Linked DNA regions of Homo sapiens. The protein of the gene in region 3 interacts with the protein of the main gene of each other region in a biochemical or structural test. Each region holds a gene or a part of one and is shown on either strand. Other genes may lie near its edges.

Region 1 (7,710 bases), on a different chromosome or scaffold from region 3:
TTATTATAAAATCTTATAATTAACATGAGAATTAGGAACACACATAATTACAATTCTATTAATACCCTGTTTTTAGGAAGGCTTTATAAATAGTTTACAATAGGATAAGGTCTGTGTTAATGATCAAATACTGTGAGGAGCACAGAGAGGTATCTCTCTATAATCACAAACAAATTTAAAACCAGAGAGAAAAAGCACAAGTGTGAGTAAAAGTGTGGCATCCTGTTAAGCAACAAAGTAAAGCTTAGTTTCTTTTTTCACATTCCCAAGGGAACACACTAGTTGGTGACAGCCCAGAGAAATGAGACAAATGTCTGACCAGGCCTCACACCTCTCTGCAGATCTTCAGCCACAGAATTAAATCCCCACGTCCTTTATATACAGGAGCAATCCTATCAGAATAGATATTAAGATATTATTATGTAGGAGAAATGTATTTTTGAAGGAAAAATACTGGACTAAATGAGGTCCTCTTGAGAACATATGAAAATCAGAGCCTCAGTCTACTTATTGAACTTGCCATGTGCCTTGCACACAGGGCAATAAACATCTGCTGTCTGATCAAGGTCAGGTTTACCATGATAAGCAAACTTCCTTCCAACATTATCGGAATTCTGGGTTTATTTTCCACGAAGGCCAAGATGGAACCGAATTAATCATAACTATTTTCTGTGCTATTTTATCACAGCCTAAGTGCTTGGCTCATACAATCATCTTGTCCTTACTCCAGACTAGGAGTCAAAAACTGGTCTGGTGAGTTTACTTTTTCTTCTCATATCTGGGCCATACAAACACAAATTTTACTACATATACATGACTATAACACCTCATAACAAAAAAAGAGTAAGTGAAATGAACAGCCACATATCCAAGTGGATACCATCACTTGGTGACCCAGAGCTATATAATAAAGCTACAGAACCACTCAGGAAAAGAGCATCAGCGAGAATGGTAAGAATTTAATACAAAATCTCCCTATATATACTGTCTGAATTTATTTAACAGGCTCCTCCAAGAAGATAAAAGGGGTCACTGACAGTCCATCCTGTTGTTTCCATGGAGGCTTTAACTTAAACAACTGCAGACAAATTTCTCTTAAAGGAAATGTATTCCCACTGTCCTTCAATACAGGAAAATGACAACCCTTAGTCAAGTCTAATTAAAATTTTTCCGGCTGAAACATCTGTAACAGCGGCATGGGAAGCCAGTGAAATGGTCAGTTGCATGTACACAACACAAACACCACTAGTTAAAAATACTCCCTTAAGGCCGGCCACAGCAGCCTTACTGCTGCAGTGAAACGGAGAGCCCCACACAACTCAAAAAACCAGTTCTCAGAACCACTTGCCCTGTTCTGCTTCCAATGTAGACATCTAAAGGAAGCATTGCCCAGAAAACCCAATCCGTAATTTTAATAAGCATAATTTACGGAAGAGTCAACTACTGTGTGATTTCTCCTCTGACTGTCATGGGAATCCCTTCCTTTCCTTGCCCCCTTTCAAATACAGCATCTACCAAGATGACCCCAAGGAAAGTACTTTCCTCTAGAAACAACCAGAATTGATATTGCAGGGAAAGGAACGGGCTTCTCCTCTTATCCCACTCGCAACTCCTCCCCTTCTTCCCCAAGGAACTCTTCTCGCCTCCCAAAATCTGCCTCAACAATGGCCCAAGATTCCATTTAACCACGTCCTCTCCTTTGGGGCAGAAATCTCTGGGAGTAGGGGCAAGGTAGTTTAACCACGAACGGGGTGGGGACTAAACAACCCTAGCACCTCTAAGGTGCCCCCAGGAGGTCTTGCCAAGGAGTCTTCCACAGGGAGAGTCATCCTGCCCGTTGTTCTGGATCTTGAAACTTGGGAGACCCACACCAAAGGAGGGAACCGGTTCCTTTACCCTTTAAGCGCGTCGTGTCCTCCACCGCCTCTTCTCTTGGCCCGACTGGCTCTGGTTTCCTTCACGTTCCCAGCCTCCAAATTGGCGTCCGCCCCATGGCTCGTGTAGGACGCTAAAAGCACGGTAAATCCCAGGGCGATCTCCAGCAGACGCCCTCGACGCATGATGCCGAGCCGCCACCGGCTCCCGCCGCCTCTTGCCGCGCCCGGGGCTCGGTCTGCGGCCGCCGCTGCGCCCTGAAGCGCACCGCGCCGCCGGGGTCCCGCTATCCCGCCGCCCGTCCCCCGGGCCGGGCTCCTCCCGCCTTCTCCAGGCGCTGCTCCCACTTCAGGCGGCCCCTGCCAGCTGCAACACAGAGACAAATCCCCGAGGCGGGGAGACTTTCAGGGCATCGGGATGCTGAAGCCTCGCGGTCCCCATTCCCAAGCCCAACCCGTGCGCCGCCTGCGCGTGGCGCAGTTAATTTGGGTAAGGGAAGACCGTTTGGTCCACAGCTGGCTGGAAAGCCCAGGCCCCCGGCGGCAGCAGCCCCGGCCGATCCCTCGGCCTCCCGGGCCCCGCCAGAAGAGCGCGGCGCAAAGTACCCATATCCCCAGCGGTCCTAAGCCCCGGGCGAGCTCTCTGGGTTTATTTTTTTTAGCGGCACGAATTGCGCGCGATGCGCGCTCTGAACGCCCCACTCCTCAGCCTGCCCTCTCCGCCAGGCTGGAAGCCAGCCGCGCCGTCCCCGCCGACTCCGGGCGATGCCACCGCCCCCCGAACATCTGACGCGGAGCCCGGCACCAAGAGCCCCGGGCCAGGAAGCTGTCAGGCAGGGGAGGGCCAGCGCCAGCTGTGGACGTTCCGGGACAGCCCCTCACCCCAGTCCCTGTCCCTGCCCTCGGCGCGGCGCAAACGCAAAAGCCTCCGTGGCCGCAGCTCCAGCCCCGGTGGCCGCCCGACCCCCGTCGGGACCCCGGCTGCACCCACTGGAGAAGCGGCGGCTCCGACTCCCGAGGAGGCGGCGGCGGCTGCTCCCAGTCGTGGCCGCTACAGCCACTGCTCGGCTCCGCTCGCAGCTGTCCCAGCTGTGGCTCCTGTCCGCTTGTGGCACCCACAGTCTCTGCCGCGGCTCCCGCAGCCCCCTCCTTTCCCCACCTCTTCAAGTATCGTCCGCGCAGCGGTTTCTCGCGAGAGAAATACTTTTTTTAAAAAAAGAAAGAAAAAGAAAATGACACCCCCTCCTTCGTCGCCCTCATCACCACCCCACCCCCCGGCCCCATCCATCCTCCCTTTCCACTCCCCTTTGCCAGCCTCCGCCTCGGTGCGGGGCCTCTCGCTCGCAGGATTAGCGCAGTGGGAGGAGGCAGAGGTGATCAGGTCCTGCCCGGCCTGGGACTTTTTGTCTTGAGGTGGGGAGGGGAGAAATGGGAAGAGGTGGAGTAGCGGTTTTAGCCCGCTCTGCGGCTGCGAGGTTTAGATCCGAGATTAACCTCTCCCGCGATAGGTGAAGCCCTACCGGAGCAGAAAGCTGTTCCACCTGCACCAAGAATGCGCGCTGGAGACGGTTGCCCCGGAGGCCCTGGCCCGAGAGAAAACCAGTCCCCGCTGCCCGCGCCTCCCGGTAGCGCGCTCCCTGCGCCTCTCCCGCCGGACACTCAGCAGACGCCGGAGGCCGGGAGGCTAAGACTGGGCGCGTCGCAGGCCGGGACCGCGGCAGAGGCTGCTGTGCCGACCGAGGAGAGGGCTCTGCCGCCCCCACTTGCCCTGGGTGTCGAGAGCCCACTCCAGACGCGGCTCTTCTGAGGCTCAATTCAAGCCACCCAGGCCTGAATCCAGGGTGCTCTCTCTAAGTCGGTGTCCAACCCAGGGGCCTGTAAATGTTGGAACCTAGGATGTAGGATGGGAGCGGTGAAGGGATGGTCCTCTTGCCCAGCCCAGATTAAGACTGGGGTTCATCTGGAGGACTCTACTTACACCCTCCCGGTCCCCTCGCCCTCCCCCACACACAGCTGCCTCTCCCCAGGATATGCGCGGCACAGTGAATTTAGTGGCTTTGAAAGGTATAGTATTTGTGGCATCCTTATATGGATAATGCCCAATGATGCCTGCACCCTGTAACAGTTTAGGAAGGCCTGAAGTCGCACACTGGGTCCTGGCTGCTGTAACTGGAGACCCCCAGAAGATCCCCTGCAAGCAGCCACCAGCCTGCTGTCAAGCCAATAATAAAAGCTCAGCACAAACAGGTACCCTGGGAATGTATCTTGTTGAAAGGGATTTTCCTTATTTGTAACCGTTTGTAAAGGGGCCCAGACAGTAGGGTAGAGAGACCTGGGCAAGTTATTCAACTTCTTTCCAAATACAAGATGGGACTTGTAGTGTCCACCACACAGGGTTGTAATGGTGATGATGGACATGCTGAACTGCTGTGATACATGAAGATGAAACAGAAAAACTGTGGGAACTATGAGCTGATCTAAAGCCATAGTCCTGTAAGTATGTATGTGGTGTACTTTAAGGTCTCACCTGCAAAAGGTCTCTTAGCAGATTCATGAATGAGAGCCTTGGTCACACACTCCTGGCTGAGTAAAGGAGATCATTCATTCAAGATGTTTTTACTGAGCACGAACTGTGTACTACTTAGTGCATTGTTGAACTAGACTTCAACAATTTTAACAAGGCAGGTTCAACAATTTGAACACGACTGACTTCAACAATTTAGTGAAAAGGGCAGAAATGTGTCTCCCCTCACACAGCAGGTAGTCAACAAGGAAAGGCAGACTTGAAACAAATAATGGACCAATTGTTAAGCGCCAAACAGGATAAGTACTGGGTGCTTGCTTGGAGGATATATAACAAGGGGACTTGACCTAGGCTAGGGCTGATCAGGAAAGGGATCCCTGAGGAAGTGATATTTAACTTAAGTCTAAAACATAACTAGACTCTACTTAGGATAGCAGTTCTCAACCCTGGCTATGCAGTAAAATAATAAGAGGCTTTAAAAAAATTCTGACACCAGGATGGGCATGGTGGCTCATGCCTGGGCCTGTAATCCCAGCACTTTGGGAGACCAAGGCGGGTGGATCACTTTAGACCAGTAGTTCAATAGCAGCCCGACCAACATTGTGAAACCCTGTCTCTACTAAAAATACAAAAATTAGCCAGGTGTGGTGGTGCATGCCTGTAAATCTTGCTACTCAGGAGGCTGAGGCACTAGAATCGCTTGAACCTGAGAGGTAGAGATTGCAGTGAGAGGAGATTGTGCCACTGCACTACAGCCTGGGCAGAACAGAGTGAAACTCTGCCTCAAAAAAAAAAAAAAAAAAAAAAAATCTGACACTGACACCAGGCCCCAACACCCAGAGTTTCTGATTTGAGTAGTCTGTAGTGGATTCTTCACATGGATATTTTTTAAAGCTCCCTGGGTAGGGAGGGGTAAGGAGGTAATTCACACTGGGAAAAGGATCTGAGCAGAGGGACCATGGATTAGGAGAAAGCAGGGCTGTTGGACATCCAGAAAGGCCTTGTCCTGCCCACCAGTTTTCTGGGCTGCTCTGCACCCACAGGGGACTCTGGAAACTGCATGCTTTCCTTGTACTCCAGCAGCATGCAAGACATGCTGTGCCCTTTCTCTCAGAATCTTACACTCAGTGACATGTTGGTCAGCAGCAACCAAACACAAGCCTTTTCTAAGGCTTCTGCCCAGGAAGTAAAGGCCAAATCCTGGTGCCCTGCAAGTCCCCTCTTCCAACATTTCTGGACATTTCTATTATTTCTAACTCAAACTGCCTTCCAGGGTTTCACCTCCAAGGGAGGGATTTGGATTAAACGTTTTTACCTGGCCTTTGCTTTCCCCGGCAACCTCCTCTTTATTCATTGGCCTCTTTCTCCAATAAAGGAAAGATTCTTCCTTCATATTGGGTGGCAGCTCCAAGCCATATACTCCCCTCTTTGAGCAATAAGTCTCATGTTCTGACCACAATGGTGGAAGATTACAGGGGAAGGGGAAGCAGGGGGAACTTGATTACTTAAAAGTAAATACATTTTAAATATACAAGAACTATTCCCGCTATCTAGGCAATCAACATGTATTAGAGTAGCATGCTACTTATGACAAAATTCAGTAACGAATAATAAAAATCTGTGTCTTTGCAATAAGATTTTCTTGATGCCAGATGATTGAGGACCCAACTCTCCTTAAACCTATCACAGACTTTTTTTTTTTTTTTCGTAATAGGTTGTTTTGCACTGTTTGCAAATTAAGTCCATGGGCTAGAATTCCTTGCTTCCATCTCCTTATTTCAAAGAATTCTATTCACCCTAAGAAACCTTGCTCAGATTCCTTCTTGTTCGTAGGTGTTTTAGCTCATGCCCATCTCTCTTGTTCTAACATCATTGCACTTATTAACTGAATCATTCACTTAATAGTTAATACATAATTATAGTATGCCTACTATATGCCAAGTGCCATGTCAGGCACTGGACATTAGGGATATTTCTTCTGTTGCTATAGTGAACTATTAGGTTGGCACAAAAGTAATTGCAGTTTTTGCCATTTAAAAGTACTAGCAAAACCGCAATTACTTTGGCGTCAACCTAAATATATATTTTTTTTCTGTAGCCATTGTACTTACTCCCCCTAGCTGTATGATAGATCCTTAAAGACAAGGTGGCATTCCTTATTCAAGGAAACTTGCTAGTGTCCTGAAAACTATGACAAAACACAAATACTTTGTTTGTTGTTGGATCAATTGAAATCTTTCTTTTTTTTTTTTTTTTTTTTGAGACAGTGTCTCGCTTTGTCACCCAGGCTGGAGTGCAGTGGCGCGATCTCGGCTCACTGCAAGCTCCACCTCTGGGATTCACGTCATTCTCCTGCCTCAGCCTCCCAAGTAGCTGGGAATACAGGCACCTGCCACCATGCCTGGCTAATTTTTTTGTATTTTTAGTAGAGATGGGGTTTCACCGTGTTAACCAGGATGATCAATTGAAATCTTGTGGCATTTTCAGCTTCAAGCCACTCTCATCATTTTATACCTCCTGTATAAATATCTATGTCAGCAAGGGTTCTTTGTCTACAAGCAAGAAAACTAGCTATGGAAAATTTCAGCAAAAAAAAAGATATTTTAAGTATTATCAGGTTATGAGATGGCTCATTGAACTTGACTTTGTGATAAAATGGGGAGTAGTACAGTTCTGGGATAATGGTAAGCAGAGAACCTCTTCAGGCTGATGTCATGTGAGTAAATCAATTCCAACCATTTTCATCTTTTTGCCACCCCTCTTGGAGTTCAAATTCAAAGGACAGGGTCCTTTTGACGTAGCTATTTAGGGAACTTGGGCACAATCCTGGCCAAAGGATGATGGAGTATCTTGATGGATAGTCCCAACAAGATTGCATGCCATGGGAAAAGGGTTCATCTATAAAAGATGGGCAAAACACTATTTTGGTCATGCACCAAAAATTGAAGGGCATTAATGCTTGTCAGGAGAAAAAAAAAAAATCCAGATGTCCATTACATCATCTCAAGAACTCTCAAGATGTTTAGAGCTTACTGAAATAAAGCATTTTCAAGCTTTACTTGGAAGAAGCATACTCTAAAATCAGCTTCTACGTCTTCCTTTGCAAACTAAATCATGACTTCACAAAAAGCTAACTAGACTTTCATGTAGCCTCAGTTCCTGCCATTGATGGTGGCAAATAGATCACTCATGATACAACCAACTATATCTTCAAAAATTGGCTTCTGACTTTTAGTGAGTATTGTAGAATTTTGTAGTTATAAAAATGTAATGCATATATCACAGCTACCAGAAACCATACCTATTTATATA
Region 2 (7,000 bases), on a different chromosome or scaffold from region 3:
CCCATCTCTGCCATTTCCTATCAGAGTGTCATTGGGCAAGTAACTTGACCTCCCTATTTCCCCGTATGTAAAATGGGATGATTGCAATAGTAGTACCTACTCCTAGGGTTATGTATTTATTTATTTTTTGAGACAGAGCCTCACTCTGTTGCCCAGGTTGGAGTGCAGTGGCACAATCTCAGCTCATTGCAACCTCTGCCTCTCAGGTTCAAGCGATTCTCATGCCTCAGCCTCCTGACTAGCTGGAATTACAGGCTCCCCACCCCGCCCACCCTGGCTAATTTTTGTATATTTAGTAGAGATGGGGTTTTGCCATGTTGGCCAGGCTGGTCTCGAACTCCTGACCTCAGGTGATCCACCCGCCTTGGCCTCCCAAAATACTGGGATTACAGCCGTGAGCCACTGTGCCCAGCCTACTCCTAGGGTTATTGTGAGGATTAAATGAGTCAATAGTTGTAAAACTTGGAACAGTACCTGCACATGGTAAATGCTACTTAGGTCGTTGTTAAATAATATAGCATGCTAATTTGCACCTCGCGTCTTTATTATCTTTTTCTACATATGCCTAAGTCTGCCACGCAGCCTCCTTGTGGAGAGGATAGTGACTTGTTATTGTGCTTCTCTGTATATTCAATATCTCTTCCACATTTGAAGTGAATAGCTTTAAGTCAGAAATTCAGATTTAGAAAAATAAATGGATCATATTGAAATTAGGGAGGCCTAGATACAGGTTATTTTTTTGTTGTTCTTCAATCTGTGTCCCTTGGTTATGCATTTGAAAAGCCTAAAGAAAACATACAGAACAGCCTCGATGCATACTGTACTTAGGGTGAGTAAAAGAGTTTTGTTGGAAGTATAGAAATAGCCCCATATCATGTGTCCTTCTGTACTTTACAAAAGGAATTCTTCAATTGCAAATTAGTACTCACTGCGCATTTATACTGTGAGCGCCAAATTTCTGCTTATGTAGGCAGAGATATGCTATTCATATTTTTTCCAAAATGTTTCTAACACTACTTAAATAATCTAAAATAGTCTAGTGAAGTGGTGTCTATGCAGACAGTTTATGAGGACTGGAGATTGGTGCCAGTATTTTTTTTTTTCATATCTTGGCTTAGACTAGTCCTAGCAGAGTTTTATAAAAGTCGCATTACTTTCTTTTTCATTGCTAAAAATGAAATGCAATATTCTTTTTGTACCAGAACTAAAGTGTCTCTTCAACACCAGGTTAGATGAGGACTATGTACATAGAAGGCCTTTACTTCCTAACTTGCCAGTTAGTCAGCCTTTATATTGTAGTCTACAGCACCCTGTGCAAATTTTTTTTTTTTTTTTTTTTTTTTTTTAGGTTTGGCAGTACATGTGAAGGTTTGTTACATCCTCATGTGCCATGCATATAAATATTTGTTGAACACAGTCTCATTTCTCAAAAGTCATTTCAAATATCTCAAAACTTAACATGGTTTTGCAACTGCAAACACATTTTTCTTTTTTCCTTTCTTGCCATGATACATTTTTCTTTTATTCCTTTCCTGCTATGAGAGTCTGATCTGCAAATGTAATATTTTACCCAGCAGTTCTCTGTTTTTCTAAAGTTGCTTGGGATTACATTTGGTCAAGAAGACTGCAAGGGAGGGCTTCTGAAAATTTGGTTTTATATTGGTCGTATTGATCATATCATGAAAACTGCCATAAAAAGGGCCCAAATAACTTGAAATAATGTGAATGGGTTTGAATTTTAGCCTAGTAGCCACATCTAACAACAGTCTTTCTAAAGGGTTAAATTTTCATTGAAGCATTTCTTTTTAGTAATTATTCTCCAAAGGATTTTGAACAGGAGAAGAAGTTTTTAGATAGAATCAGAAAATATTATTCTGGTAGTCTACAGAATAAAGTTGAATTTGAGATGGAGGTTTCAACATCAGCCAGAAAAGTTTTTTAATGTGGAATTTTTTTAAGGGTTTAATTTTCCCCATACTTGGCAAAGAGGGAGTTTTGAGGCTTATAATTTAAAAACTGACTGCTGATGATTTAAATATAGCAAATTAAAATGCAGAATTAACTTAGAAATAAAAATGTTACACATCGAGGAGGCAACATGTCGTGGAAGGTGACTCAGTTCTAAGGCCTGCTCAGCCACCAACCGGCTGTGTGATGGGCAGGTAACTAAACACTGGCCCTCACTGTCCTTATTTGTCAACCAAACGGATTTGCCTGGATAATTTATTAGCCTGAGAATCAGCTCTGATGTCCTGATTCCAAACAAGCAATTCTTTACCTTTGAGACCTGGTTCTCCTTTGTCCCCTATTACGTGGGATATCTCTGAAGGCCCGGGATTTCCTTTATCTCCTTGTTCCCCCTTGGCTCCTGGGGTTCCTCTCTGGCCCTTTACTCCTGGAATTCCAGGGCTCCCTAACAGACAGGAGTAACAACATCAGGTCCTTAATTCTTCAGGTAGTTCATAGGGATTAAAAAGTTGGCAGTGCTTACTATAAAACAGAACAAATCAAACAAAAAAGGCTAACAGTGCTGAGAACTTGATAAATAGTTTCCCCAGGCAGGCAGCCTCATAAGGGTAGTGGTGTAAGCCTACAGAAAACAGGATTCCATTCAAATGGAGAAAAGGAACATAGAAAACAGCAAAATCAAATACTGTTGCTCTCTCAGAACTATTTTTCCCTCCAATGAAACATAACTTTTTTTGCTGCAAAATAAATGAACATTGTTTATGCTTCCTGCTATTTAGAAAGACACTCTATCACTTACCCCTCTGCCCTGGTGTGCCTGGGTTCCCAGGGGGCCCTGGAGGGCCAATGGCTCCAGGAAAGCCCATCATCCCAATCACTCCATCTTCACCTATGGAAACAAATTAACACAAAGCAGCACGTGTTGTACAGAGTGAGAAAAGCAAAATATTCCATATACTAAAATAAATTATACTTAGAAGCAGAGATTGGGAGTTGAAAAAATGGCCTCTGTACATAGTACAATTACTGTATTAGTCTAGGAGATGGGTCGGTAAGTGGTCTTTTAAACTCACCTATGTGGAAGTGATTGGTAGCAAATCATATTCATGGATGAGGATAGCATATGTGGAAGTTTTGGAGCATTCCATCCTCCCAGCCCCTGACCAGTCACTTTCTATTCTATCCCTTCACTTTATTTTCTTCATAACACTTGTCTCAAATTGAACTTAGATTTTAAATATTTCTATTATTGATCCTCTACTATGAGAAGGGGAGACTTGTCCACTGACTGATGTGTCTCTAGGGCCTAGAAGAATGCTGGCATGTGATAGTAGCCCAATAACATGAATGAAAGGATAATGTGTCGATTAAGTTGTTTTAGGCTCTTTTCCAGAGGGGAGATCGGTGAGGTCCTTATGCCATGAGGGAACAGAATATTCTCCCCAAACATATAAACAATAAACATAGCCATGAAATTAAAACAATTATACAGAAATATGATGAACAACAACAACAAATCAGATAACTTATAAAAATGGACAAGTTTCTAGAGAAACAGAATACCAAAACTGACTCCAGAAGAAATAGAAAACCTGAATATACCTATAAGAAATGAAGAGATTGAATTAGTCATTTAGAGACTTCCCAAAAAGAAATGCCCAGACCCAGATAACTTCACTGGTGAATTCTACCAAATGTTTAAAGAGCGTCGATTCTTCACAAACTGTTCCAGAAAATACAAGAGGAGGAAACACTTCCCAGCTTGTTCCATCAGACCAGCATTACTCTGACACCAACACCAAAGACATCACAAGAACGCTACAGACCAATATCCCTTCTCAATATAAATGCAAAAATTCTCAACAAAATACTAGCAAGTATATTATAGTAGTCGTATATAAAAAGGATTACACAGCAAAAATAGCCACATTCTGGGTAATTGTTCATCCTGCCGCCACCGTTTCCCTGCACCATGGCCCCTGGTTTCTTACAAATAATTTAGAAGGAAAACCTTATATTAAGTAAAAGCATAGAGTAAAAAGCGTATGCCTATGTACAGTTGACAGAGCCACCTTAAGAAGAAGAAGAAATAAGAAGAAAAATAGAAACACACAAAAGGATACCTGGTGGCCCTAAAATTCCCGGATTTCCTGGATATCCTCTTTGACCCAGTGGTCCCATTTCACCTTGATGACCTGGAATTCCTGGTGATCCAGTTTCTCCAGGAAATCCTGATCTATCCAAGCCTGGAATTCCTGGGTCTCCCTTTGGCCCCGTTTTACCTCTTCTGCCTGTGTACGAATAAATGAATGAATTAATTAACCCACAAATGCTTTCCCCTACTAACTTCAGAAATATATATATATATATATATATATATTTTTAAGATGGAATCTCCCTCTGTCTTCTAGGCTGGATTGCAGTGGGGCGATTTCGGCTCACTGTACCCTCCGCCTCCCTGGTTCAAGTGATTCTCCTGCGTCAGCCTCCCAAATAGCTGGGACTACAGGCGTGCACCATAATGCATAGCTAAGTTTTGTATTTTTAATAGAGATGGGGTTTTGCCATGTTGGCCAGGCTGGTCTCAAACTCCTGACCTCAAATGATCCGCCCACCTCGGCCTCCCATAGTGCTGGGATTACAGGCATGAGCCACTGCACCCGGCCACTTTAGAAATATTTTATGGCTGTAAATATTTAGCTTTGTGATTTGGGGTAACTGCACACTTACGCATGCGTGCGCATGTGTGTGTGTATGTATTTAATGTCCCCTCTGTAAAATTTCTGAGCTCCCTTCTGGCTCTAACATTCTCTGCTCCAATGATTTATGCAGTAATACAAGTGTAGTCTTTATATCTATTTTCTAGTCCTGCAGACACATTCTGGGACTGCACCTTATGAGTGCTGCTCACTCTGTTTCCTGCAGAAGACATACAGAGCCGTTCGCATAGAGGTAAGCCACTGGATGCCTCTGGAAAAAATAATAATGCCACTGTAACAGTTAAGGTCTTGGTCAAAAATTTATTTGTGAACATATAAGCAGTATGATAGACCACAGACATTAACTGATTTCTAAATACATTTTTCCAGGAACAGTTCATCAGATCTGATGAGGAGAGGATCCAAAAACAAAGTTTTCCATCATCTGGAACATCTAGCCTGCATCATTTAGATTTATTTTCATGTTTTTTCTTTTATATTGTATGTAAAACAATCAACTACATATTTTAGTTTATAAGTTTTTAAACTGGTATCATTGCATACATTTACCCTATTTTAATAATAAGGATAAACTTACCACTTTAATATATTTATGAAAATATTAAAGGTAAAATGTTTTCTGAGAATTTAATATGTATATAAATATATGTAAACACACACCAATCTCTGTCTTCAGCATTCATATTTTTCTTGCATAAAAGACACAAAGCAACTCACTATATTAACTTCAAGTTTCTTCCTTTATAGGTGGTACACACTACTGTGTGCAACAAACCCATAACAGCAAGGTTTACACTTCTGAAGTATTTCTCATTGAACAGTGGTCAGGACTTGTGGCTGGACAGTTCCCATGTTAAGCAGCAAAGCACAGAGCAGGAGTCTCATGTCTCCTGCCCTTCTGGTGGCCAGTTTTGAGGCCCTCCTCCTACCTTGTTGCCCTTTCAATCCATTTAAGCCTGGAAGTCCTTGGGCTCCCCTGGGACCCTCTATGCACCTTCCTGGGGGTCCTTGTTCTCCAGGTGGTCCAGGCTGCCCTGGATCTCCTGCAAAAGAAAGCACAAGTATATACCCAGGTGCTAGAACTTAAGGTCTTGGTATTGCTGTACCAGTCATTCTTCTGTTAACTTTTTTTCCACCTAAATCAGATCTATATTTACTGCCATTAATATGCCTTTTCTAGAGGGCACTCATTAAAAAAGAAGGAAGGAAGAAGGAAAGAAGGAAGAAAGGTAGGGCAGGAACATTGGATGGGAGAATTCTTCATGCCTAGAACACCTTCACATTCAGTTTGCTGCATTTTAGCAGAGCTCACAGTGGAGAAAAGTAATGACACTTGCTATTGTACCTCGTGGTCCATCAAGCCCTTCATTTCCTGGAGTTCCAGGGAGACCTGGAAGTCCAGGGAGTCCAATTTCTCCATGTTCCCCAGAATTGCCTCTTTCTCCTGGAAAACCTGGTGTTCCTGGTCCTCCAGGCATGGCTACTGCTGGTTCTCCCTACAGCATAGAAATTGTGTTATTACTATATAGTGCTTCCAAATCTTCACTGATATTGACTCTCTGTTATGGAGGCTCTAAGTCCCTGTTGCACAGCCACTACCATGTCATCAACTTTCCTTTTTGAGCTCTAGTTGCTGACTTTTCTGTAAGATTATGTTTAATAATACTTCAGGATATGTAGCCTCCACTTTTTCAGAAGACTGTGGGATTGTCTATAAAGAGAAAAATCTAGATGTTTTTACTTTTGATAGTTTTTCTTATAGCTAACCACATTTCTTTCTAGAGTTGTCCCATTTTAAATACTCTGATTATTTATGAAACCATTAAAGATGATATCACGATGAAATCTGCATTCTGACACCTTATGTTTTCCTTTCTAAAATGGAAGATGATCCAGAGAAACATTTAAAAAATTTAATATCTTCATCATCTACAAATATATTGATCATTTCTACATCTAGAGTGCTCTGCCAGATAAGTGCATACAAACTGGCCAGTTAATGGTCACCCACCCTCTCTTCTGTGATAGCTTGAATTTTTGCATACCTTGGCTCCTGGGAGGCCTGGCTTTCCAGGTAACCCAGGCTCTCCCATTTTTCCAGGACAACCCAGTGATCCTTTTGTACCTGGAAAACCTTGGTCTCCTACAGAGAAAAAACAATAAACATTGTTGTAGGATTAGTCTTATTGAAATATTCTGAGCAGTAACTCTCTTATCTCTCAACCAGCTAGAGATGCTTTTATGAAAATTTAAATGATAATAAAACCAACTGATAAATTAGCAATTTTTTAAAAGTTCCAAATCAAATTACA
Region 3 (7,393 bases):
GTCCTGCCAGGAGGCACATCACAGTGGACCTCTGCTCCTGGCACTGTGTTGCCAGCCAGCGACGGTTCAGGGTGGTAGATGCTGTTTAAGAGGAAGCCACAGAGAGGCCTGGGTTCAAATCCCTCCTCTACCCTTAGCTGATTATTCATGAATCTGTTGGACAGGTGTGTGCCAGGCACCAGGACTAACTCAACAAACTGAATAAAACGGGACAAAAACATGGTCTAACCCTGCGAGCAGTTCACCATCCAGCGTGAAAGCCTGGCAGGGAAGGAGCACATCTCCAAAGACGTAGTGGGAGCACAGCAACCACAGCCCCATCCCCTCCCCTGCCCAAAGAAACAGCCAGGGGAATGGGTAGAAGCAGCAGAGAGGACATGGGAGCCAGGACACGAATTGTCAGCTTTAGCCCCTCAGTTTCCCAGTTTTTCTTTTCTTTTCTTTTTTTTTTTTCAGACAGGGTCTTGCTCTGTTGCCCAGGCTGGAGTGCAGTGGTGCAATCGTGGCTCACTGCAGCCTCTACCTCCCCAGGCTCAGGTGATCCTCCTACCTCAACCTCCTGAGTAGCTGGGACTATAGGCCAGCACCACCACACCCAGCTAATTTTTGTATTTTTTGTAGAGATGGGGTTTTGCCATGCTGTCCAGGCTGGTCTCAAACCCCTGGGCTCAAGCGGTCCACCCGCCTTGGTCTCCTAAACTGCTGAGATTACAGGTGTGAGCCACTGCACCCAACCTCCCTCCTTTTTTCAAGGGTAGGGGACAGCATTTCTGCTGGGTGAGTTCCTCTCTTTTGCCAGTGGGATTGCTCCTGGCAGCAGTGGGGTCTAAGGGCAGGCAGAGAGGGCTGGGCTGGCCTGGCCTGAGGGCCCACCTCTCTCCAGGTGACAAAAGTCTCTGCTGCCCTGCAATAGACACTGGGGGGCGGGGCATGGGAATGAAGGAGGCACAGGGCATATTTACTCCCTCCCTAAGACTCAGAGTCTAAGGGAGGTGGGGGAATGACTGGCGATGAAGAGATCAGATGGCAAGGGTCTAAATCAGGGGCCATCCTCATCTCCTCCCAGCCCGCAGCCCCTACAACTCTCACTCCCGCCTCAGGCCTAGGCTCCTGGGCAGGGCTGAAGGCTGCCCCTCACGCAGAGGATCTGCACCCCCAGCCAGCTTCTCCGGGAAGAGTTTAGTGTACAGTTCACTCATTCATTCCACCAATGTTTGCTGAACTGCTGCTCTGAGCCGGGCTCTGAACTTAATGAGCAAAACTGAAGATGAGCAAAAACAGCCTTGGTCCTGGCCTTCACGGGGCAAGATGACAGTCTCATCGGGAAGAGGGACAGGGCTCAGATGGTCACAGACATAGGCCAACAAGACAACTGCAAGCAGTAAAGCTAGAAAGCACAAAAAAAGGAAAAAGGGAAGGCCCCTCTGAGGAAGGGAGGGTTTGATCTGTGACCCCATGGAGGAGACCTCAGCCAGTGCTCGGGAGGAAGAAACGCCTCAGTGTGGGAGGGAGAGGGGTTTGGGAGAAAACCCCCAAAGGCCAGTGGCTGGAGGAGGAAGAGGAGGCAGAGCCAGGCTGCCATAAAGGGCCGGGGCCCTGGAAGCCACAGGGAAGTTGAGCCTCTAACCTGAGTGAAAGGCGATCAGTAGAAGGGGCACGATCTGCGGGGGTGAGGGAGGCAGGACCCACGTGGGAGAGCCCAGAGTGGAGGCTATCGCAGAGCCCAGGCAAATGATGGTGGTGTCAACTAAATAAGAAATCAGCCTTTTGACCAGGTGCAGTGGCTCACGCCTGTAATTCCAGCACTTTGGGAGGCCAAGGTGGGTGGATCAGCTGAGGTCAGGAGTACGAGACGAGCCTGGACAACATGGAGAAGCCTCGTCTCTACGAGAAATAAAAAAAAAAAAAAAAATAGCCAGGCATGGTGGTGGGTGCCTGTAGTCCCCACTACTCTGGAGGCTGAGGCATGAGAATCGCTTGAACCCAGGAGGCAGAGGTTGCAGTGAGTTGAGGATGCACCACTGCACTCCAGCCTGGGAGATAGCAAGACCCTGTCTCAAAAAAAAAGAAAAAGAAAAAATCCACCTTTTGGCCAGGCACAGTGGCTCATGCCTATAATCCCAGCACTTTGGGAACCCAAGGCAGGCGGATCAGCTAAGGTCAGGAGCCTGGCCAACATGGTGAAACCCTGTCTCTACTCAAAAAAAAAAAGCAAAAATTAGCCTGGCATGCTGGCATGTGCCTGTAATCCCAGCTACCCGAGAGGCTGGGTTGGGAGAACCTCTTGAACCCGGGAGGTGGAGGTTACAGGGAGCCGAGGTCACACCACTGCACTCCAGCCTGGGCAACAGAGTTAAACTCCATTTCAAAAAAAAAAAAAAAATCAGCCATTGAAAAAATTAAAGTTAGTTTTATTGAGTCTTACTGAGGACTGCACCCTGGGAGAGGGTTTCAGAGAGTTTCTGTTAGACTGCGCCAAAGCAGCATTTCAGCCCACAGTTTAGATACAGAGGCAGGCGGTTCTGTGTGTGCTCAGAAGCTATGGTCAGGCACGGTGGCTCACGTCCGTAATCCCAGCACTTTTGGAGGCTGAGGCGGGTGGATTGCTTGAGCTCAGGAGTTTGAGACCAGACTGGGCAAACACGGCAAAACCCCTTCTCTACAAAAAATACAAAAAAAAAAAAAAAAAAAAAAAATTAGCCAGGCATGGCGGCTCTTGCCTGTAGTCCCAGCTACTTGGGAGGCTGAGGTGGAAGGATCACTTGAGCCCAAGAGGTGAGCTGTGATGGTGCCACTGCACTCCAGCCTGGATGACAGAGCGAGACCCGGTCTCATTAAAAAAAGAAGAAGAAAAATTTACATCAAATGTCTTCAGAAGCTACACTAGTGCAAATCTCGCCAAGGTTTGGGTTCGAGGATGCACCTAGTTATATAGATTATAGAGGCATAATCGTCAATCCTGTCAGGTGCTATCTTATGTACAGGAAAAGGCACAGCCAGGATCATTTAACTTATATTTTCTAACAATGCAGTGATTCAGGCAAGAGGCGTGGGAGCCTGTGTTCTGCCCTGCCTGCCATCTTCAAGGCATCCTTCCGTTGGGCTGCCCCCAGTCACTGAGTCAGGGCTTTGTCAGCTTCTGACAAGCAGAAAGAGCAAATGCGGTTTCTTGGGATTGCAACTTGGTCTCACAGTGGCTTAGGCCAGGGTGGGAGCAGTGAACGGAGTCACAAAAGAAATTTTTCAGGTAGCATTCACGGGTGGGTGCTGGATTAGATGCAGGGCTAAGGGCAGGGGAGGAAGCCTGGGTAATGGAAGGCTGCGGGGCCAAGGGGGGACTGGGAATCCTGGAGGGCCAGGTCTGGGGGAGAGTTAGGAGGTCGTGAATTTGGACTTGGATGCTTGTTGAAGCTGATGCATCTTGAGGACATTTGTGGGACACATAGGCTGGGTCAGGGCTGAAAGAGGTGCTGGTTATGGCCGGGGGCAGGGACTCATGCCTGTAATCCCAACAGCCCAGGAGGATGAGACAGGAGGAATGCTTGAGGCCAAAATTTCGAGGCCGGAAGTTCCAGACGAGCCTGGGCAACACAGCAAGACCCTGTCTCTAGAAAAGGAAAGAAAGAACCGCTGGTTGTGGAAGCCAGCCATGGCCCAGAGCTCAGCAGTGTAGGAGAGGAGGGTGCGGGCCTGAGAGAGGCAGCAGGCTTGGCTGGAGAGGCAGAAGGAAAACCAAGGCAGGAGAGTGTCCTGGAAGCTGGGAGAAGGCAGAGGGAGATCGAGGCTTACTTTCTGGCTGAGGGGCCTAGGGTGAGTCACTTTGGGAGGCTTGATTTCCTCCTCTGTGAAATGGGCAACACACCTACCCTTGCCCACCTCACCCCCCTCACCCCGTCGACGTCGAGTGAGGAGCAGCTGTGAGGAGGAGGAAGCTTTGCACAGACGTGAGGACGGCCCCGGGCGCCTCTACCCCGGGGACACCCCCCCCCCCAGGAGATGGAACCCCGAGGGCACGGCGTGGCGGCCCATGCGGGCAGCTCGCGTTAGGACCCAGCGGCTCCGGGGCTGGAGGGCGGGCGCCAGCCCCGTCGGGGGCCCGGAGGGGGACTCGGAGCGGGCCAAGGGGCGGCTCCGGCGGGCGGACTCGGAGCGGGCGGCGGAGTGACCCGGACAGGTAGGCGCGGGCCTGGCGCTTGGGGGCCCCGGGGGGCGGTCAGGGGCGTCGGCGGGTCCCCCGGCGCGGGGGCGAGGGTGCCAGGCTCTCTGGGTCCTCGATCCTGGGGCAGCCGCGGAGGTTCCTGAACCCCGCGCCTTCAGAGCGGAGGCCAAGGGGGCACCTGGAAAGTTTGGGGTTGCTCTGCAGAGAGAACGCGAATTGGGAAGGGCGGGGAGCCCGAGTTTGGGGGGAGCCAGAGGTGAGGTCGTCGGGGGATGGGACATCTTTTGTTCTCCCGGGGAGGTTGGAATGTGGCGGGTGGGGTGGGGGGGGGGGGTCCGGTGGGAATGGCCGAGACAGAGACGCAGAGAGACAAAGAGAGATCAGAGACGGGAGCGCGAGGGCGCGCGGAGCAAGTTTCCGCGGCTGATTGTTCCCAGCTGTGCGGCGCTGCAACATCTGGGTTTCTCCCGCCGGGACCCCTCCCCCTGAGCCCGGCTCTGGAGCCGGCAGAGCCCTCCCTCCGTCTGATGTCTGAGCGAGCGTCGGGGCCCCCTGTCCCCCACCTCCCAGGACGCAGGGGAGTCGGGGGTGGGGGAGGCCGCAGCTGTGGAAGAGGCCAGAGGTGGGGGTGGGGCAGCCTCCCAGGCAGGTCCTGGCCTCCCGCACGCCCCAAAACCCCTTCGTCTAGAAGAGCTCGGAGATGTGGTCCCGTGGGAGGAGTTCATGAACTCCACACTGACTTCTCTCTTTCCTGCCTCCCCGCTAGCCCGTGGGCCTCCTTCCCCCAATAAGCCTGGGTTCGGGGGCCAGTCCTAGGGGAGGAAGACTCCCCGCAGGGTACCGACAGGCATCCCCCAACACCTTGCAACCCCTCTTGCCCCAATTCAGCGCCTTCTGCTGAGCAGCGGGGGCTCCGACCGACCTGACGGATGGGGAGAAGGGCAAGGAAGGCTCTCTGGGTCTTTTCATCCCCCTCCCATGAGGAGGTCAAGGGTTTTCAGAATGGGGTGTGGGGAGCCAGCTATCCCTCGCCTCTGGGGCAGCTTGGTCCTGAGCTTCGTCTCCCGGCTCCCACTCCACCTTAGTGAGGTGCCTAATGCATGAGAGGAGCCAGGGGGTCAGGAGGCCTCAGGATTGAGAGGAAGGAGGGAAAGACCTCCTGCTTTCTCCCCTTTCCCTCCCCTCTCCCTGGACTCCCAGTGGGGAAAATAGACCAAAGTTGGGGTTTCCAGCTAGCTCTCTGAAAGGACTTCCTGGGTTGCAGCCGGGAGGGGCCCTCCTGGATGGACCCCGCCCTCGCAGCCCTCCCTACAGAAGGCTGACGGACCTGAGGTGGCCCTCCACTGAGCTGGGGCTGGATGTGGGGAACCGGAGGCTCCCCCAAGTCCCACCGTGTAGCCAGGACTGGAGGCTGGGCTCTTGAATGTCAGGAGCCTGATGAAAGCCACGGACCCCATGCCCTCTCCCTCCAAATGACACACACACTTGCCTACAGTGTCAGGGGGTGCAGAACCCCCAGCCTGGGTGATGTCACGGCCCCTTCAGTGCTGCCTTTCTGGGATCCAGAGGAGCCCCCTCAGGCTTCACTCTCGTGCTTCCTGCTGCTGCAAATAGCCCGGGTCTCGTGAGCCTGTGATGCACACAGCCAGGTCTTGCGAGGCCTGGAGGCCTGGCAGGAGAGGAGTCTTCTGGGAGCTGGGAGCCCTGCCCGGCCTGGCCGCTCTGGGGGCCGGGCAGGCCCATGTGTATGTGGTTTCCTGCTGAGCAGGATGCTTAGGGCCCAGGGGCTAATTGGGAGCAGGTGGTGGCTTGGCAGAAGCTGCTGAGTCCAGGCGGTGATGCCGGCTGGCCAGGGCTGGGGTCCCAAGGATGGGCCTGGGTTCAGTGATTCACGCAGTCAGTGCCTTGGACACCCAGGGAGCCACTGGGCCAGAGGGCTGAGCACGGGTGTGGGTGAGGACAGAATGGCCTGGGCTGGGAGCACATTAGGAATGTCCCCTTAGTGAGCAGGGCAGGGTCCGCCCTTCCCTGACCACATCAAGTACACCCACTACACGGGGTTTGCTTGTCAGGATCAGCCCTGGAGCTGGGTTGGAGGCCTTGTCCCTTGTGACCTGAACACCTGGGTGGGCCAGCAGGGACTGGGATGTCCCTCCACTCCAGCCCTCCCATGCCTGGCTTCTATTCTGGGTGCCACCTTCTCCAGGGCGAAATCAGGGGATCAAAGGTGAGCTCTGCTGTCCTGGGTGTGGCCCTGGGTAGAGCTCTCCCACCGGTCTTTCCCCAGCTGTCCTCTCTGACACCACCCCGGCCTGCCTCTTTGTTGCCATGAGAGCTGCCTACCTCTTCCTGCTATTCCTGCCTGGTAAGTGGCTCCTGGGGCAGGGGGTAGCTCCTCTTATGTGGGGCTGAGGAGTAGGGTTAGTAGGGGGAATTCATAGTGAGCCTTTGTCACGACTTATGACCAGAACTCAGCTCCCCAGCTCCCAGGGCCTTCTGCCTGCTTGGACCACAGACTGGACCAGCCAACCCTGGCAGCATCTGGAGGCAGCTCCTGGCCCTTCCCCCAGCCTTCCACAGCAGCAGGCAGGCAGGGTTCTGGAGGGCACGTCCCAGGCACAAGGACTCCGTGGGCACAAGGCACAAGGCCTCTCTGGGAGCCGATGTGCAGGTGCAGGGGCACCCAAGGCAGGGAGTCCGGATGCTTGAGTTCTAGATCCATTCAGGGCCCTTCTGCTCTATACAGTCCTGACCTTGTGGGGGTCCCTACTGGCCAAATGAAGAGAATCAATGAGGACCACAAAAGTCCTAGCAGGGCCAACATTCATTCATTCAGCAGCGATGTGTTGAGTCCCTACCACGTGCCAAGTGCTGGGCTAGGCCCTGGGGATTCAGCGATGAACCAGGCAGACACATCGTTGCTCCTCATCATGCTGCCAGTCCAGGGAAGGGAGACAAATAGGAAACAAGCAGACATGAGAAACTCCAGCATGTGCTGAGTGCTGGACAGAAATCAGCAGGAGGGCTGGTGGGCTGGAGGTGGGGCGGCATCTTGGCACAGCTGAAATTCCAGGGAAGACCTGAAGGAGCTGAGCAGGCCTCACAGGCCCAGGGAGTGTCAGGTGCAAAGGCTCTGAGGGAGGCAGGAGCATGTGGAGTCCTAGGAGCAGCCAGGAGGCCAGCAACAGGAAGGGGCAGGGTAAGGTCAGGGAGGTGACCCATGACCAGGGTGGG

The links. The genes of interacting proteins can lie anywhere in the genome.
Region 1: the proteins of MFAP2 (region 3) and FBN1 form a complex in vitro, tested with the Homo sapiens proteins (one study listed by BioGRID).
Region 2: the proteins of MFAP2 (region 3) and COL4A3 form a complex in vitro, tested with the Homo sapiens proteins (one study listed by BioGRID).

What each region holds. Positions count from the first base shown.
Region 1 is NC_000015.10:48,642,710-48,650,419, forward strand, and holds the start of FBN1 (fibrillin-1 isoform a preproprotein), read right to left. Parts: upstream 3,001-7,710; 5' UTR 2,866-3,000; intron 2,262-2,865; exon of another isoform or gene 2,242-2,261; 5' UTR 2,061-2,241; coding exon 1,897-2,060; intron 393-1,896; coding exon of another isoform or gene 326-392; exon of another isoform or gene 1-325.
Region 2 is NC_000002.12:227,279,624-227,286,623, reverse strand, and holds part of COL4A3 (collagen alpha-3(IV) chain precursor), read right to left. Parts: intron 6,832-7,000; coding exon 6,734-6,831; intron 6,185-6,733; coding exon 6,034-6,184; intron 5,732-6,033; coding exon 5,618-5,731; intron 4,921-5,617; exon of another isoform or gene 4,835-4,920; intron 4,260-4,834; coding exon 4,092-4,259; intron 2,858-4,091; coding exon 2,768-2,857; intron 2,414-2,767; coding exon 2,279-2,413; intron 1-2,278. UniProt on the Homo sapiens protein: Type IV collagen is the major structural component of glomerular basement membranes (GBM), forming a 'chicken-wire' meshwork together with laminins, proteoglycans and entactin/nidogen.
Region 3 is NC_000001.11:16,977,368-16,984,760, reverse strand, and holds the start of MFAP2 (microfibrillar-associated protein 2 isoform a precursor), read left to right. Parts: upstream 1-4,140; 5' UTR 4,141-4,174; intron 4,175-6,446; 5' UTR 6,447-6,487; coding exon 6,488-6,524; intron 6,525-6,965; exon of another isoform or gene 6,966-7,092; intron 7,093-7,393. UniProt on the Homo sapiens protein: Component of the elastin-associated microfibrils.